Homo sapiens: one gene and its partner. The protein of the gene in region 1 interacts with the protein of each later gene in a pairwise test. Each region holds a gene or a part of one and is shown on either strand. Other genes may lie near its edges.

Region 1 (3,805 bases):
GTTCAGATGGGATGAGGTGGCGTGGGGTGTCCTAGCCAGACTTCAGGCATAGCACCAGGCTCCCTGTTCTGCCTAGCCAGCCAGGGGGGTGTCCTAACTCTCAGCCCTGCCTCACTTTCCTGACCTTTCCCCTTTTCAGAGTGCTCTGGTGACAGGTAGGCCCTTCCGTCTCTCTCTGCACCTTACCTGGTCCCCCCACTCAGAATGGTGGAAGCTTCAGTGCAGGAATCCCCTTGTGTTATTTAAGCCTGGCCTCCTGCGCAGTGGTGGAGGGAATGTTCCACATGTGGGAGAGGCCCTCTGGGCACCTGTGTACCACCTATGTGGTGAAGACAGCCACCTGGCAAACCCCAGCTGTGCCCACATACACCACCCTCGCTCTCATGGGGAGGATCCTCCTGATGTCCCAGAGGAGGAGAGAGACCCAGGATGGCAAAGGACCTTGCCCACGTTTGCACGGCTGGATGTGGCTGAGCCTGATCTCAAACCCACGTGCTCCCATGGGCTGCCCTGCCTGGCCTGCCCCATGGCTTTTCCCCAAAATCGCAGTTTCATGCAGTCACATTGTGAGGGCCTGAAACCCTGGGACCCCTCAGAAGCTTTTCCTCAGTTCCTCCTGAGACACCCCCACCAGGACTGCACTTCAGACTCCCCCATGCACTGACATTAACAGTGGAAAGGCCAGGCTGCTTGGGGCGAAGTGTCATACAATTAGCATTTGTAGAAGTTAAGCTAGATTACAAAAATTAAGAAAGATTTAAAGGACATGTAAGTGGAATTTAATATACCCTGGACCTGGGTGTTCCTCAAAATGCCAGCCTCAGCCTTCTTCCTGGAGAACTCACTAGAAGGCCACGGAGAGGGAGCAGGGCAGCCCCCTGGGAAGCAGGATGGCGTGGCATCCAGGGCTGGGTGGGGGTGCTGAGCTTTGGTAAAACGATGCAAGGTCCTCCTTCCTGGTGTTCTCACCACATTCACCCTGGAGTGCATGTTATGACCTTGGCTCCCTGCAGCCTCAACCTCCTGGGCTCAAGCAATCCTCCTACCTCAGCCTCCCGAGTAGCTGGGACTACAGGTGCACACCACCACACCTGGCTAATTTGTAAATTTTTTTGTAGAGATGGAGTCTCACTATGTAGCCCAAGCTGGTCGTGAACACTCCTGGACTCAAGCAGTCCTCTTGCCTTGCCTTCCCAAAGTGCTGGGATTATAGGCATGAGCCATTGTGCCTGGCCTCCTGCCTCTTCTTTCCCTCCCCAGCCCTTCTCTTCCTCTCTCTCCCCATTTTCCTTTACACTCTGCTTGTTTTCCAGACAACCAGTCTGTAGGTGCTCTTTCTCTGCCTCTAGCCCTCAGCCTCTGCCTCCTGCCCTGGGCTTGTCCATCCCTTGATCCTCAGCTTCCCTGTCTGCCCCCACCTGAGCCTTCCCTCTGTGGCGAGCCCAGCCTCTCATGACCTCTCTGGGCACTGTCTTCCAGGTCACCTAGACCCCAGGCCACGTATGTGAACGGCAGCCTCCCAACCACACAACACATCAAACAGGAGTCCTTGCCCGACTACCAAGCCATGGCAGAGGCCCGCACATCCCTGTCTGCCCACTGTCGGGGCCCGCTGGCCACTGGCCTGCACCCAGACCTGGACCTCCCGGGCCGAAGCCTCGCCACCCCTGCGCCTTCCTGCTACCTTCTGGGCAGCGAACCCAGCTCTGGCCTGGGCCTCCAGCCCGAGACCCACCTCCCCGAGGGCAGCCTGAAGCGGTGCTGCGTCTTGGGCCTACCCCCCACCTCCCCAGCCTCCTCCTCACCCTGTGCCTCCTCCGACGTCACCTCCATCATCCGCTCCTCCCAGACGTCTCTGGTCACCTGTGTAAATGGACTCCGGAGCCCCCCTCTGACGGGAGATCTGGGGGGCCCTTCCAAGCGGGCCCGGCCTGGCCCTGCATCGACGGACAGCCATGAGGGCAGCTTGCAACTTGAAGCCTGCCGGAAGGCGAGCTTCCTGAAGCAGGAACCCGCGGATGAGTTTTCAGAGCTCTTTGGGCCTCACCAGCAGGGCCTGCCGCCCCCCTATCCCCTGTCTCAGTTGCCGCCTGGCCCAAGCCTTGGAGGCCTGGGGCTGGGCCTGGCAGGCAGGGTGGTGGCCGGGCGGCAGGCGTGCCGCTGGGTGGACTGCTGTGCAGCCTATGAGCAGCAGGAGGAGCTGGTGCGGCACATCGAGAAGAGCCACATCGACCAGCGCAAGGGCGAGGACTTCACCTGCTTCTGGGCTGGCTGCGTGCGCCGCTACAAGCCCTTCAACGCCCGCTACAAGCTGCTCATCCACATGCGAGTGCACTCGGGCGAGAAGCCCAACAAGTGCATGGTGAGTTCCCACCGGCCGCCAGGCCTCACCCCAGCCCCTCTGGCAGAGCAGCACTCACCCCAGTGCCCCAGGAGAGGCCGCCTGGGACTCCGTCCTCTGGGCTGGCTGAGATCCCTGTGGTTGAGGAGGAAAGGACCCATGCTGTGGATGTGGCCCCTGGTCAAGACGGTCAGTGCCCCTGTCACTGGGAACCGTGGCAGAGGGGCCCTCATACTCACTAGGTGCCCAGTCCCCCACCCTGAGGCATTAGATATATCTTAGCACGCCACAGGGCCCGGGGCTGTGTGCACATGCGATTGGAAAAACAGGCGTGGCCAGCCTCTTCTTTCATGTGTTTGTGCTCCATGTCCCATCTGCTGGTGGCCAAATGAGATGTGGAGAACATACTCTCCTCCAGCGCTGGGCCCTCACCACCACCCATCCCAGTGAGGTTCCCTGGGCCTTCTAGTGCTGCCTACAGCCTTGGCTTCCACCAAGGAACAGTGGGGCCTAACAGGCACCCGGCTCGAGAGCTGCAGGTCCCCAGGGCAGGGTTTGGGCTGGGGCCCAGGGTTACTAGCTAAGGCCCTGGGTAGTACCAGTAGCGTTCTTCCTGGAGTTGAGACAGGTTTCTGGCACTAGCATTATGTGTACATGCGCACGTGCACACACACATGCATGCACGCGTGCACACACACGCGCATATTAACTGTGAGTACTCAGGCCTCCAGCCCTTGTGATGGATCATTTCTGTGACAGGTCATTTCTGCCCCGTCTGTGGGGAATACTGTATCAGAGGCTAGGAGCACTCCCTGATACACTCAGCCTAACTGCTGTGCTACCTCCGAGGCACAGCCAGCCCACTAGGAGAGGTGCCTGCCCAGAAACGGCAGAGCTGGACCTCAGGGTGTGCTTGGTGTTGAGAAGCATGGGCCACCAGGGCCACTGCCCAGCCCGCCCAGCCATCAGGACAGCAGCATGGCTGGTGTGCTGGGGCTGGTGCCATAGCTAAAGTCAAGCTGTTTCACACTTGGACTTGTGCAAGTGTCAAACACTGTCATTGGACACCCACTCATGGAGCACTTGGTCTGGGAAGGGGCATAGTGTCCCCATTCAGAGCCCAGGGTGACATTGTAGGGGCCAGGAAGGAGGCAGGACACATTGGCAATCAGCAGCATAAACTCCGTCCTCCTGGGGCAAGGTGCTTGCCCTTGGGCCCCACCTACCTGTGGAGCTGGGAGCTGGGCGTCGGACAGGATCTGCTTCTGCAGCTTCAGGAGGCTGGGTCTTGAAGGAGGAGAAAGAGTTTGCTTTGTAAACAAGTGAGCAGCAGTGAATGGCCTGTGCCAAGGGGAGGCAGGAGGAGGGAGCTTGTGGTTAGCATTCTGGTGTGTGGAGCAGTGGTGGGGAGAGTGCATTGGACAGGCTGAGACTTTGACTTTATCTTGTGCCTTTGGGCTGAGA
Region 2 (4,201 bases), on another chromosome or scaffold:
CCTCGGGCTGCTCCGAGAGTTTCAAACGCTGTGCCACTCGCTTCAGCTGGCAGTGGCGATTATCGGGGTTTCCTCTCCCCGCAGCCAGAGTTCCCGCGCCGCTAGTCTTTGGCAGATAACCCAACAAGCAAGTGAATGTCCCGCTCCGAATCTCAGGAAGTCTCTAAAACAATAAAAGAGACGGACGGAATCCGTTAGCAGAGCCTGCTCCCGGGGGAGGCGGCGAGGCTGCGCGCCCAGAGTAGCGCTCAGCGGTCCCGGCAGGTGCGGGGGCAGTGGAGGGGGCCCGGCGGTTCGCCCGGAGGACGGCCTCGGCTCCGCTCCGGCCAACGTTCCCCCCTCCAAGAAACTTTTCTTTCACTCTGAGAGGCTCCGTGTTGCCATGAAAACGGATTTTCCAAGGGGCCCGACCCTCCCCCTCAGGGGCATCGGACTGGAAAAACCGAAATGGCCACAGAGCAGAGACAAAAAGGGGCCGCTAAGCGGGGGCCAGGATCGAGAGAGCGGAGGCCAGTTCACCCCCTACGTCCCACACATACTTTCCACACCACCTTGTGCGAGCGCCTCCGACAGGCTCAGGAGACGGGCGACTGACTGCTTGCCCGCCCTCCTGCAAACCCCCAAGAGCCTCACAGCCGAATGCACCCCGCAGTCCTGAAGCCTGTCTCCCATGCCCGGGCCCCTGACCCACGCTGCGTCCTGGACGCACTGGCCCTCCTAGAGAAAGATCTGGACAACCAGCGGCCAATTCCAGGGAGAGCTTCTTGGAGACGCAGCCAGGAGCACTTCCAATGAGCCTGGAGTCCCTAAGCCGGCCTGGGTAGCTGGTGGTGCCCTGCGTTCCTAGCGCTGGCAGCAGAAGCGGCCAGAAAACCTCCGTGCAGACAACGGGAAGCTTTGCGGGCTGGCCGGGGGATGGGGCGCCGGTCTGCCTTGACAGGGTTGCAAAGTTGTTTTCTAAATTCCGAAGGCGCCCCTCTGCCCCCTCCCCCCAATCTGCTTGCGTGCCCCCTCCCCCCTCCCCCCGTCACCTCCTCAGGTTTCGTTCTTTCAAACTTTTTGAAACCCTAATTGGTGGCCTCTGAGTGGGCCTCGTGGACTCCCGCCTCCTAAGTAACTCTTACCACGTCACTAGGCCAAAGAGGGGCGTGGGGTGAACGAAAGGGCTCCCCGAACTTTTTTTTTTCCAGCCAGGCCGAACGGGGGCTCGGTAATGATTGGCCAGGGCGCATCACTGCGAACCTGTCAATCACGGGTCCTCCGGGTTGCGAGGGGCGGACCAAGCCCCAACCCCGGGGAATCCGAGCAGGTATATAAGGGGCCCAGCTAGAGCCCAGGCAGACTGTGAATGCGACCTGTTCGAGAGAACTCATCAGGTGCGAGAAGCCCGCGGGTTCCTGCTGATTTGGCGCGGAGCATTTTGATAAGCCTACCCTTCCCGCCGGACTCGCTGGCCCACAGGCCCCCAAGCTCCGCTCCGACGGAGTCCCAGGGCCTTTTCACCGTGGCCGCTCCAGCCCCGGGAGCGCCTTCTCCTCCCGCCACGCTGGCGCACCTTCTTCCCGCCCCGGCAATGTACAGCCTTCTGGAGACTGAACTCAAGAACCCCGTAGGGACACCCACACAAGCGGCGGGCACCGGCGGCCCCGCAGCCCCGGGAGGCGCAGGCAAGAGTAGTGCGAACGCAGCCGGCGGCGCGAACTCGGGCGGCGGCAGCAGCGGTGGTGCGAGCGGAGGTGGCGGGGGTACAGACCAGGACCGTGTGAAACGGCCCATGAACGCCTTCATGGTATGGTCCCGCGGGCAGCGGCGCAAAATGGCCCTGGAGAACCCCAAGATGCACAATTCTGAGATCAGCAAGCGCTTGGGCGCCGACTGGAAACTGCTGACCGACGCCGAGAAGCGACCATTCATCGACGAGGCCAAGCGACTTCGCGCCGTGCACATGAAGGAGTATCCGGACTACAAGTACCGACCGCGCCGCAAGACCAAGACGCTGCTCAAGAAAGATAAGTACTCCCTGCCCAGCGGCCTCCTGCCTCCCGGTGCCGCGGCCGCCGCCGCCGCTGCCGCGGCCGCAGCCGCTGCCGCCAGCAGTCCGGTGGGCGTGGGCCAGCGCCTGGACACGTACACGCACGTGAACGGCTGGGCCAACGGCGCGTACTCGCTGGTGCAGGAGCAGCTGGGCTACGCGCAGCCCCCGAGCATGAGCAGCCCGCCGCCGCCGCCCGCGCTGCCGCCGATGCACCGCTACGACATGGCCGGCCTGCAGTACAGCCCAATGATGCCGCCCGGCGCTCAGAGCTACATGAACGTCGCTGCCGCGGCCGCCGCCGCCTCGGGCTACGGGGGCATGGCGCCCTCAGCCACAGCAGCCGCGGCCGCCGCCTACGGGCAGCAGCCCGCCACCGCCGCGGCCGCAGCTGCGGCCGCAGCCGCCATGAGCCTGGGCCCCATGGGCTCGGTAGTGAAGTCTGAGCCCAGCTCGCCGCCGCCCGCCATCGCATCGCACTCTCAGCGCGCGTGCCTCGGCGACCTGCGCGACATGATCAGCATGTACCTGCCACCCGGCGGGGACGCGGCCGACGCCGCCTCTCCGCTGCCCGGCGGTCGCCTGCACGGCGTGCACCAGCACTACCAGGGCGCCGGGACTGCAGTCAACGGAACGGTGCCGCTGACCCACATCTGAGCACCGGCCTGCGCTCGTCCACCCTTGTTCCCCACCCCCACCCCCACTCCCGCCCCGCACCCCCAAGTTGGGACGCCTTGTTTAGCTTTGCTTGCCTGGGACTGTTGCCTTGTACCGATGATGGGGAGGGCTGAAAGTTTTGCTGTAGCTGTCGGGTTTTGTACAAAAGCAAAAATAAGTCAGGAGCAGCGAAAATGGGACTTCTAGAGAGCTCTCTTGCCCCACGCCGCTGCTCCTTTCACCTTTGTAGGCTGGGAATCGCTGTGTTATTTGCAAAGAAAAAACAGCCCCCACTCCTCCTCCTGAGTTCCAGGGTTATTCTGTTACATTTGAAAATGTTGTCTTGTTAGTTTGCAGTTAGCCAAGGAGTGAATGGGAGAAACATAGTATCGGGTGAGGCCAGCTGGAGAACTGCAACGCCTACGCCCCCAGTCGTGTCGCGTCTGTTTTCCTCGTGGTTTTTTGGGGCGCTGACCGCTCCAAGCAGCGCGGCAGCTAAAGCCAATGTTAATTTATAGCCAGGTGTGCGTGTGTCTCCCGCCTCGCCGCCCCTGGCCGCGGGACAGCTTCTGTCCAATCATGTTGAGTTGGTGATTTCTGCCGTGATCTGTTTGATATTTCTTCGCGCTAATGTGTTCAGATTTCGTTTGGGTAGTGGGGAGGGGCTACTTTGTTTCAGGGTTTTCAAGCTTTTACTCTTAATTCCTAAATGAGATCAATAAATTTTATAACCAACATGATGGAGTCCTGATAATTTTGCGGCCCTGAAACTTTTTTGCAGGTTGGGGAGGAACCAACACTCGGTTTTACAACTGAGATCCCATCCTAGGGGCGGGGTGGGACCTGGGGGGAGGCAAGCATAATCTGAAATGGTTTCCTTTTAACTACTGGTGATCCACCATACACCAGCTTCCAATATTCTCAACTGAAACTCGGAACAGAGTTCCGAGTCTTCCAGGAGCGTCTCCCGAGAGCGGGCACACAGTAGTAGCTAATGCGCAGAGCCCGCGGCCGCGCACTTGTTGATCGCAGTGAGCGTCTGCTGAAAGTGTCTGCTGCCGCAGCCACGCGAGGCGGGGCTGGAAAGGCGCGGCCGCTGAAACCGACCAAAAACGGGGCACTTTTACCTTTGTGCACTGGGGCGGGAAGACATTTGAGCCTAGCTGAAATATTTACAAAACGAAAACCCTTCGGAAATCTCGATGATCCTATTAAAAATAAATGGTTACAGGGATCCCCAGCAGGAAACAAATACGTTTCAACCCTGGTAGCTGAACCGCCGGAGTCAACATTCAGCGCTGGAAGATTTGGTATTAAAAAGTACTCCTTAGATTTTCAAAGATCTCCGAAACTCCTCCCAGGCGTTTTGTTTTTAACATGTCAACTCAGTCCACCTATTTGTTTTCCAGAGAAGGCTCCTTTTCATCCAGAGTCTCGAGCCCGCTTTCTACTCCATCCCCCTCCCCACTCCATCCCCCTCCCCACTTTCCTCCAGTCCCTGACCCTTGGCCA

What was found.
Region 2: the proteins of GLIS1 (region 1) and SOX3 come close enough for resonance energy transfer, tested with the Homo sapiens proteins (one large-scale study listed by BioGRID).

Annotation. Positions count from the first base shown.
Region 1 is NC_000001.11:53,592,665-53,596,469, reverse strand, and holds part of GLIS1 (zinc finger protein GLIS1), read left to right. Parts: intron 1-1,479; coding exon 1,480-2,362; intron 2,363-3,805. UniProt on the Homo sapiens protein: Acts both as a repressor and an activator of transcription. Binds to the consensus sequence 5'-GACCACCCAC-3'. By controlling the expression of genes involved in cell differentiation inhibits the lineage commitment of multipotent cells.
Region 2 is NC_000023.11:140,502,208-140,506,408, reverse strand, and holds SOX3 (transcription factor SOX-3), read left to right. Parts: upstream 1-1,339; 5' UTR 1,340-1,348; coding exon 1,349-2,689; 3' UTR 2,690-3,424; downstream 3,425-4,201. UniProt on the Homo sapiens protein: Transcription factor required during the formation of the hypothalamo-pituitary axis. May function as a switch in neuronal development.